Regions from separate parts of the Homo sapiens genome. Here region 2 is linked to region 1. The links come from fine-mapping of genetic effects on gene expression. A gene starts in region 1. The other region holds a variant in brackets. All regions are shown on one strand. Distances are between the middles of the regions.

Region 1 (5,383 bases):
TCAGCATATCATATCAGGATGCTGCACAAGGCTGATTTGTCCCATCACTGGTTTTCATTTATGTAAAATTTTACCAGTCGATTAAGATGATACCTCCCAAGTATTACAGCTGCATGTTAATAAGTATGCTGTACTTATTAATAATTAATGATGTATTAATGAACATTTTTAGAGATATGCTTTGAGACTATGTAAATATCCTGTTCCTCATCAAACTTTTACCCACCAATTTTAGCATTTATTGATGATTCTGGCCTGAATCAATTATTAAGATGGTGGTTGCCAAATGGTGGTTTTCTAATTCTATCTTTTCTTCTTCATTTATTAGTCGCATTCTACTATAGAGTTCCCTTCTCTGTTTCTATCAGCATGGACTCATGGACTCTTATTTTACTCAAAGGGTTAAATTTGTCATTAACTATTTTACTCCTTAAATAGTTCAAGATTTGGCCAACAGGAACCCCTTCAAGCTGACTTCTGTCTTCTTTTGACATGTCTCCATAATTCTTTAAGTATTTTCTCATTTCCTTGCACAACAAATTATTCTAGTTTCATCCACTATACCAAGGAACTGTGGTTCCTTTCAGTGGAGGATGGTATTAAGAAACCAAGGTCTGAGTGTTAGGTGTGTTCATTGCTACTGGGGTGCCATTGCTTTTAGGCCTTCTCAGTCGACAAACCTAGGAAATATATCACCATATACACACACATATACACTTATATTTTTCTGTCTATCTATCTATAATCTCTTTGGATCCAAAATCATTTTACACCTTCATCTCCAACTTCAAGGCACATAGCTAGATCTCTTGCCTTTCTGTATTGGTAATTCCCTTCTCCAGCAGTGAGATGACTGGCTCCAATTTTCTTAATGTATTTACTTCTTTGCTCAATTCCCTAGCACATAAACCAATCTCTTGGCCATGTCAGCAAAAAATGTGTCCTGTCTCTATTACATACATATATATATAAAATACCCCCCACATACATACACATACATATGAAATCAGATATTTTATGTATAAGAAACCATACTACATAGATATATCAGGAATCCCATATAATACACAAAATGTATCAATATGAAAATACATATCTAATTCCTATAAATATCTGATTTCACATATTTTTTTTTAAAGAGAAGTACACAGTAAGGCTTTCTTCTGATGAGCCTGGAGCCTGCTGTTTATACTTCCACAGTATTATTCCTTCATGCTGTACTTGGCCCTCAAGGAGCTGCTAGCCTCAGAAATGCAGAGTTCCCACTGGGTGTGGTGGCTCAAGTCTGTAATCCCAGCACTTTGGGTGGCCAAGGCGGGTGGATCATCTGAGGTCAGGAATTTGAGACCAGCTTGGCCAACATGGTGAAACCCCATCTCTACTGAAAACACACAAAAAATTAGCTGGCAGGCACCTGTAATCCCAGCTACTTGGGAGGCTGAGGCAGGAGAATCGCTTGAACCTGGGAGGCGGAGGTTGCAGTGAGCGAAGATTGCACCACCACACTCCAGCCTGGGCAACAAGAAGGAAACTACGTCTCAAAAAAAAAAAAAAAAAAAAAAAAAAAAAAAAAAAAAAAAGCAGAGCTCCTCAAAGCGGAAGTTTCCCTAGTTGCTACCTTTCGCTCCATGTACAGCCTATTCTTTAACTGTGACAAACGGCCACAGCCAGCTCCACAACCGGCTTGAGCCAAGTATTGAGCCTGAGGAAAGAAAGATTTTATATTTCAGCTTTAATAAACAACTGGGACATCTGTTACAATTCTATTTTCCTCACTAGGCTGGGTATGGTTTCTCTTGGTTGCAGGTTTCCCCCCACCCCCCGCCTTTCTGTGTACTAAGCCTACCATAACACACATGTCTGCTTGTGTGTTATCCCATTCGACGTGAAGGCTTCAGGGCAGAGACTGCTTCCTTTATTATCCATTTCTAATGTTAGAAGAGGGTCTAACACAGAGCAGGTGCTATTTGTCTATTGAAGGAAAGAATGAATACATCCATTAATCAATGTAGAATGGCGGGAAAAGACACAATTTGGGAAGGAGACTTTACTCTTTAACTTCTGGACCCATGTGAATGAGGAGTCCAGGTCATCCATCGTTAAAGGCATTTAGGTATTTTATTTCAAGTATTTTTCCCCTTTTCTGGTGACATACTACAATTCAGGACTAAATCTCAAATTTATTCTTGATATTGATAGCATTGATATTGCACACAAATCCCACGGTTACCGTCCAGCACTAGTGATCTTGTCCTATTTCCACCTGCAGCTTTTTGAATCTAAGTACACATCGCATTTCAAAACTCCCACGTTAAAGAAAGGCATCAGTTCAAGTTACTTTCTCATTTTCTGTCTTCGACTTTTTTCTGCTTCCCCCAAGAATATCTGAGAGTTACTTTTCTCGAAAGTTCTTTTGTAGTGTTCCAGATAGGAATCATCCTGTAATATTCCAAATGCAGCGTGTGGTGTGCATGTTGAATACATAAAAATGACGAGGTTAGGAACAATATCGCTGACGGTCGCGGTGTCCCGTTTTAATTTAGAGGGCGCCAGCAACACGTCAGTGAGGGAGATTCAGAAGCCGCCGGGCACCTCACCCCGGGCCGGGAATCCCTAAGAGAACCTTGACGCCGCTGAAGTTTCCGGACCGGGCCAGTTTGGAATTGACGAAAGCAGCCTCCGCCCGGTCGAGCCAGTCTCTCGGTTTTCTCGGCGGCTTCTTGAGGATGAGGCATTTCTAGGTTTTCTCCTCCTCGAGCAAATCACGGTCTGCGCCTTCCGCGGCTCTGGGAACAGGTGAGCCGTGCGGCGGCGCCCGCGGGACGCGCTCAGGTGCCGGTCCCCGCCCGCCGGCCCCTCCCTGCAGCACGCGGTCCGGGCCCAGGTGCCGGGGCCCAGGTGCCGGCGCCCAGGTGCGCGGGGCACGGGGCTGCAGCTCCGCTCGGCATCCGACAGCGGGCGCCGCTGCAGCAGCTCGCGGGCCGCGGAGCTGAACGGCTTCGCGAGTTGGGGCAGCTCCTCGCGCTCGGCCCTGCTCGGCGGCGAGAGCTCCGCCTGGGCGCCGCGTTCCTACAGCCGCCGGAGCCGCCAGGCGCCGAGGGAACGGACAGACCTCCGCGCACCCTTGCCGACCGGGGCGGGCAGAGGCGGGCAAGCGGCGAACGCCTGGGAGCGCGGAGAGCCAGGCCAGCCCGGAGCGCGCCGGGGACACCCTGTGCGCCCCGAGTCCCGGCACCATGCGACCCGCCGCGCGTCCTCGCGGGCCCGGGGCTTCGCTCTTCGCTCGCTGAGCCCCTGCGCTCGCCACCACGGAAACTCGGAAAGAGGAGGCGAGGCTGTGGGGAGCGGCGCGGAGACGGACTAGACTTCCCCTCCGCCCCCAAGAGGCTGCCGGTCCCCGGTTCCCTGGGCTTCTCCAGCTTTATCATGAACCTGGCGCAAGGTTGGCTTTAGGAAAAATTCTGGAGCCAGAGGGAGAGTCAAGGCAATTCTTTGGTTGCTAAGGTAATTGTAGTTGTGATAAAAAATGGGCAAGAAACAAATGGGGGAAAAACATGGTTTAAAACAGTATCCTCCCTCCCCACCCCATTAATATGTGTTGATTTCATCTCCTGGGTGTGGGTGCTTGTCCATTTCAGATGCGTGACAGGTGCCCGTGTGTGTGTGTCTGCAGTTTGGGACTGTGGAAGCACGAGCTTACATAAGTGGTTAGGCAAGCTGGCGTGTGGACTTGTGTGGGATGGGTGCAGGTCTGCATATAAATCATGTTCCTGGGTTTCTGGGTGTGAAGCGCACACCGACGGGGACGAGAGCGCAGAGGATGGCGCTTTTAGATACTTCCAGTCTTCCGATGTTGTGATCGCAGGTAGGGCAGCTTTGCCTCTAATCAGGCGTTCATTAACTTTTTCCCTGAACAAGCTCGCCCATTTGTGGTTTGGAAGAAAAGAAAGCGAGTCTCCGCGGTGAGGTGTGGAGGGCAGGGGCGGGTGGGGAGGTTTGTTGTTTGGGAACTGCGCTAGCAAAGGAAGCGGTGGCTATTCGCTTGGAGAGGATGACAAATGAACTGGTTGCGTGAGGAGTGAAGAGACCGTGTTTACAGTCACCAGCAGGCTGCGTAAAGAAGTGGCCCAGTGAGACAGGGAAAGTGACCCAGAAAATTTAGTTTTGTTCAGAATGAAAGCTGCTGTATTTCATTTTTGTTTCTTAATTTGACGGAGTAGGAACGTTATTTTCCTTCTCTGTCATTGAGACCAGTAGCATTTCTATGTTACAAACTGAAGATATTTGGGGTCTCGTCGGCTTGGGATTATCAATGCTTGGGAGGTGAGTTCTGATCAATACCTTTAACAACCCCAAAGAAAAACGCAAAAATAATCAAGTTTAGGTAAAACTTCCACTGGACTTTCTTTCCAGGGAGGGTGAGAGATGGAAGAACTGGGCTTGTAAGTATCAAAATGGAGTTAGAGAATGAGCTACAAGTTTGTGTGTGTATGGTCTGTCAAAAAGTGTTAAGACTGAAAGGAAACTGTTAGGTTTAGTTAAATGTGTTGACAACACGGCTCTTACATATCAATTTTCATAGGCAAATAGGTAATTACATAGAGTGGGAACTGGGACTATGGTGGGAAACTTTCTGTAAGATGTATATTCTTTATTCTTAATTTATCACTTTTTCAATGGGTGGGACTACTCTGTGAAGGAAAGTAGAGGGCTGAGGGACATTTGGTGAGACTCTTGAGAGAGAAACCTTTGCAAGCCAAATCTCGCATGCTATAGATGATAAATTCTAAGTTCTTTGATATTGTACCACTCTTAAGCTAAATTGTCCTGTAAATATGATCTCATGCACCATAAACTATATATATGTAGAGAGAGTCTATTCCCAATAACTCATCCTTTCCTGAAAGAGTCTGCAAGTTCTATAAATGTCAGCTGTTGGGAGGTATTGTGATGAAGGAGAGAGGCCACCAGTGTTTCCTTTTATATATTTATTCTGGCAGATCTTAACTTTACTTCTGATTTTCTTTAAGGAATTTCAGTTAACATTCACTGAATTTATATTGCTGAGAGTTTCAGTAAAACAAGACTAGATTTTCTTTGAAGCAATAAATTCATCTTATCAAGTGAAACATTATGACAATGCTTTTGTGGCAGAAATGTTTATTTAAATGAGTCCATTTTAATTATTTATTTATTTTTGACTTGCAGAATAAGATCTGCAACATAGATGTTTTTGAAGTAAGTAGACGTTTCTTGAGAAAGAAAAATAAATTTAGGTTACTGTGGACAATTTGCCAGTAATTTTGGATGTCTCTTTGTCTACAGGGACATAATTTTGTGTGAAAGTAGAATCATTCCATTTCTTATGTCTCTCATCTTCTCC
Region 2 (5,383 bases), 560 kb after region 1:
TCAGGTATGTCTTTATCAGCAGCATGAAAACAAACTAATACAGCTCTTATTGGTGAAGCCTGGCCCCAGGGAAGATGCATACCTTGCAGGAGATTTATAGGACAGAGGATGTGCCTCTAGTGTGCCCGTGGTTTCGCTTGTCTATTTTATATTTGTAGAGGATTGTCAAGATTCTTTGGAGATGCTTTCCCATTTTCTATCACAATGGTCCTGAGTGCTCAACAAGCCTGTTATATAACATGATGAACTTGACAAAGATCAGTTAAATGACTCAACCAAGAATTCAAACTAAGGCTTTTCAACTGGGACCACTGCTGCTTCTACCCCAGGGGTCATGATAAACACCTGGGACAGCGAGGAGGCTCTGAGGTGTCCGAAAATTTACATCCATCTTCAAAACCAAAATTACCAGGGGCTCTTTCATTTTGATTTGATGAATAAAACATCTTGTGTCCTGAATGTTTCAGAAAATTGAGGAATGAGATATGGTTCTCTCAAACTTGGATGTGCATATGAATCACCTGGGGGATCCTATTAAAAAGCAGAATCTGACTCAGGAGGCCTGGGCTGGGACCTGAGATCCTGCATTGCTAACAGGCTCCCAGGTGATGCCAGTGCAGCTGGTTTATGGATCACACTTCCAGTAGCATGAGATGGCACCTCTGACTAATTTCTCTGCCTGTTCAGCATTAAGCTAATTGGCCATTATTGCCCTTTGCAATTCAGTAGTAGGAATTGTGGCTCTGACTTTGCTGTTGTGGGAGAAGATGCTGACACACAAGCTGGCAATGCTTAAGGAAAAATTTTATTGTGGATCGATAACCATAAAAATATTCATACCTTTTGGTCAAATAATTCTGCTTATGGATATGCATTCTAAATAAATAACCCAGAAGATGAAAAAAAAAAATCTGTGTGAACAACGGTGTTCTACCACAGCACTATGTATATTAAAAAAGAAAAAAATCTGTGTCTAATAAAAAGGAAACGATTAAGTAAATTGTAATAAAGTCACTCAATGCAACCAAGACAATATTGTAGACATATGTTCATCTTCTCCCTTTCCTCAAATGCAACATGTCACTAAAGGAACAAAAATGGCATGAACTCACAAGGTTAACAAACTATTAATAATTTCAACACATTTGTCCAAGATACAAAGTTTACGTAATTGGGGAACATAACCACAGGCCCCTATGTCTGTATTTGTTATTTTTTATTTTTTTAATTGGTCAGCGAGTACAAGGTATCAAAGTAAAATCTTACAATTTTTATACATTTCTGTATGCCTGAAATATTTCAAAATTTAATAAAAAAGAAAGTGCATAGGGACAGAGTAAAGAACATTCTAACCTACATGTTGGGGGCAGAAGTGATGTGACAAAGTGAGCCAGTTTTCGCAACAAAGCCTGGCCTTGGCTCTTGAAGGCACTAGGGACCATGGAAAGCAGGAATGAGGCATGGGGCTAACAGCAGAGGAATGGTCAAGTCTGTCACAGGAGACTTTGCACCCCTAGATCTCCTGCCCTACTAGGAAACAATCCTTCCCACCTACCACCACTGCAGGAGATGGGCAGTTTTTTCTTGAGAGAAATTGAGCCACATACGCTCAGATCTCAGACACATCAGATCTCATAAGAGGCCACCTGAAAATAAGAGAATTAATGGAAGCTCTACGCACTGAACTGTGGGGCCTGTAGGGATGGAAAGTGTGATACCTTTCCTCATCTACCATAAGGATTACGGCCAACACTGCTATAACAAAAGAGGTTAACAAGAGAAAAGCATAAATGCATTTATTTCATCAGTTTCACATGACACAGAAGCCTTCAGAAATGAAGACTCAAAGACCCAGGGAAAACTGTATTTGTGCTTAGGTTCCATGAAGAATGGGAAGCCTTGTAGAAATGTGATTGGACAAAAGGGTGTGATCTACTGGTAACAGACTGAGGGGAGGAAACCCAGCAAGGCCTGTCTGTTCAGATTCTTCTTAGTGTCTCTGAGTAGCATTCCTACCTCCCAGGTAGGACCTCTCTGGAATGAGGGTTTTCAAGGGAGAAGGGAGCGAGTGACCTTTCTAGGTTTTGTGGCTTGCTTTGCAGGAGAGGCATTCTAGTTTCTATGACCCACTTTGGCGAAAAAGAATTCTTGTTTCTATGACTTACGTCGGGGGAGAAAAAGGGATGGGAGACGGGGGCAGGAGAGAAGGTGAAAGCCTTGGCTTCTGAGGCCCTTCCATTCTCCTTTAGTTCAAAGTACTCAGCATGCCAACATACTATACTTTAGGGTATCATGTTCTGAGCCCCAACAGACCCTCAGCCCCTCCCCGACCCTGCTCTCAGGCCTCCAGGAGCCAGACATATATACCCACAGGCAAGAGACTGTCAAAGTACAACCTGTGGGCCAAACCATACTCCATTCTGTTTTTGCAAATAAAGTTTTATTAGAACACAGTCACACGCATTCATTTGCAAGCTGTCTATGGCTGCTTTTATGCCACAGCAGTAGAGCTGAGTAGTGGCAACAGACACCATCTGGCCCACAAAGCCTAAAATATTTACTATCTAGGCCCTGCAGAAAAAGCTTGCCAATGCCTGCCCTAGGGAAAAATAGACGCCCCAGAGGAAAGACTCCAGATCCCTCATTTGGAGCTCCCATTAAAATACTGGTAAACTTCCCTATGACAATGAAGCCCATCAGTGACAAGCCCCATCCACACGCCCACTGAGCCGCCAAGCAGGTTTCAGTACCTCAGTCTTAAGTACAAATGGATGTCCAAAGATTTTCCAGACACTCCAGGAAGGCTCAGCGTGAAAGAGTATAATCAAAATAAACCGACAGAAAAAAGGAACTTGGAAGAACCAAAATAATTCAACAACTGGAAGAAACTTACAATAAAAGTATAGAACTCATATTATCTGAGAAATGAGAAGGTATTTCATCCATAAAACAAGAACTAGACACTATGATAACCAAAAGTGAACTCTGAAACTTAGAAAGTAATGGCTCAAAATTAAAAAATAAATAAATAGTTAAAAGAGAGTTTAACAAAAAGACAAGGAGATGAAAAATGGGAGGGAAAATAAACAATTCAGGATGTCCAATATTGAACTG[GAA/G]AAAAAAATATAGGACAAGCAAACAAAGGAAACAAAGGGTTTAAAATTAGTGATGAATACTATAAAATTCCTGATAATTATTTTCTTATCTATCACACACTGTGCCCAGCATAGTAAATAACAACAACCAGCAAGGGCCATCATGAAATTGCAGAACACTCTAGCAATAAAGAGATGATTCTAAGTTGACAGAGAGAAAAGAAACTGAACCAAAGAACGAGAATCAAAATGGATCCAGGCTTCTCAATAGTAACACTGCATACCAGAAAAAAAAAAACATGGAGTGATGCCTACAAATTTCTAAAGGAAAGAGATTTTTCACCTAGTGTTCTATGTCTAGCACTATCAGTCAAGTATGGAGATAAAAGCATTTTTAGACTTGCAAGGATTCTCATGCATCCTTTATTACGAAACTACTAAAGGATGTGCTTCAACACAATCAGGGAGTAAAAGCAAGAGATAGACATGGAATCCAGGAAACATGGGCTTTTCAACACAGAAGTGAAGGAAGTCCCAAAAAGATCATTTTCCATCAAGTCTATAGAGCAAATGATCCAGTTTCGAGCAAGAAGACTAAAGACTTCAGGAAAGAGGATCTCTGGGAAACAAGAGGACAGAACTGCTCAATTATTTGATGTGTTTAAGGTATAAAAAAATGATTGCTAGATGTTTTACAGGTTTGTTAAAACACTTGCTTGGAAAAAGTAGTATGATATTTAGCTGAACAGCAAACAATTTTTATCTAGTTTAATAATGTTACACTGACCATTGATTTAACAAAAATTGTAACACAAATCTATTTGGAGGATCACGTAAGAAAAGGAGGGAGTTGAGGACTGGTGAATAGAAAGATAAATTCTTGTCTAAAATAAAAAAATCAGGAATAGATATAAAAGCGTATAATTTAGAAATATATAGGTAGCTTTTAGAAAAAACATAAGGTGGAAAGTAGATGCCTCTCTGAGAAGGGATGGGAGGAAAAAATAATTGCTTTTGCTTTTTTAGTATATATAATCATTTGGTACTATTTTATTATTCTAACTATTCACATACATTTTGATAAGAATAAAAATTAGTCTAAAATAAATTATATCAATCTATAAGATCAACATATCTATTAGATCATAATTATAACTAGAAAAGTTGCTTTTTTGGAAAAAAATGCAAATGTTTACTCCTTGTGGTCTGCTGATATTTAAAAGTCTTTATCATAAGAAAGTCCTTCCGTTGGGAATGCTGAGCTGGCAGTCTGGTGGAGCTGTAGTGTCTTTTGTGTGTTCCAGATGCCTCGAGAATCAGTCTTTGTGGGAGGGTGGAACACAAACAGTTTTGACCAGTGTATTAGTATCAGTAAGGCTAGCATAACCAGGGAGAGATGCACCAAGGTTCAGGTAAAGAATCAAGTGAGGAAAAGATATATAAAATGCATGTATATATCATGGCTGCAACAGTGCAAAAATGGTATGTTCGTTATAAGAAGGAAATAAGGACAAATGAAAACAGTTTGATGTGTCAGAAGTGGGAGCGGAAATAAATTTTTTCCTTTAATTTAGAATTATGTGAAGACTGCTATAATGTTTGTGTAAAACAGAATAAAGGGGTTTTCTAAGGAAATCAGTGGCATTCTTTGCTCTGCCTCCCTCCTGCAGTTTAATTGCCTACACGGAACAATATGTGGAATATGACCCTTTGATAACACCAGCTGAGCCATCCAACCCTTGGATCAGCGATGACGTTGCTTTGTGGGACATAGAGATGAGGTAAAAAATGTTTTAAGGTTTGGGAGTGGGATGAATGTAGACAAAAATCCATGAGATCATGAGATTACCTTATATTCTATCTTAATTTGACATTTTTTATCGCTAGAACAGAAACCCCTCAAGTAGCCTCCCAGCTGAGTTCTACTTACAGTTTCTACCTCCTTATAGCTTTGATTTGTGCATGGATCCTTTGTGGCTCCCCTCTGACCCTTTGGATACCATGATAACTGAGACAGTCCCTCACCATTCCCTAGTTCTGATTGCTGGAAGAAAAGAATCTGTTGTTCCAATTTTTTTTCCTGTTAGACAGCAACAATAATGATAATAGCTGGCACGTATTCTGCATTGGCCACATCCTGCAGTAAGTGTCTCTCACTGAATCCCCTCGACAGGTAAACATTACTATTCTCACCACTCAGCAGTTATGGAAACTGAGGCACAGAGGAGTTAATGAACTTGCCCAAGGTCATACTGCTAGTACAGCAGAGTTAGGACTAGAACTCAGGC

Direction of the effects. Positions count from the first base shown, and alleles are read on the strand shown. Sizes are in standard deviations (SD) of each study's normalised expression.
With allele GAA in place of G in region 2, the expression in lymphoblastoid cells after a statin of the gene that starts at base 2,992 in region 1 is lower (moderate effect, 0.61 SD a copy in CAP).

What was found.
Region 2: its variant is fine-mapped to the expression of RGS6 in lymphoblastoid cells after a statin (CAP, PIP 0.91). The same link has a PIP of 0.9 or more in lymphoblastoid cells.

The regions. Positions count from the first base shown.
Region 1 is chr14:71,929,438-71,934,820 of GRCh38, forward strand. RGS6 (regulator of G protein signaling 6) reads left to right here and starts at 2,992. Exons shown (of 18, transcript NM_001204424.2): 1 at 2,992-3,504. It overlaps LOC124903404 (translation initiation factor IF-2-like), which reads left to right and starts at 2,489. Exons shown (of 2, transcript XM_047432046.1): 1 at 2,489-2,588; 2 at 2,732-3,453. The coding sequence starts at 2,489. The coding sequence ends at 3,453. RefSeq lists silencers at 2,781-3,060, 3,081-3,240.
Region 2 is chr14:72,490,387-72,495,769 of GRCh38, forward strand. RGS6 (regulator of G protein signaling 6) reads left to right here. Exons shown (of 18, transcript NM_001204424.2): 13 at 4,766-4,876. Among named protein-coding and RNA genes, the nearest start is that of MIR7843, 24 kb to the right of the region's middle. The variant GAA/G (reference allele first, on the strand shown) is at 3,115.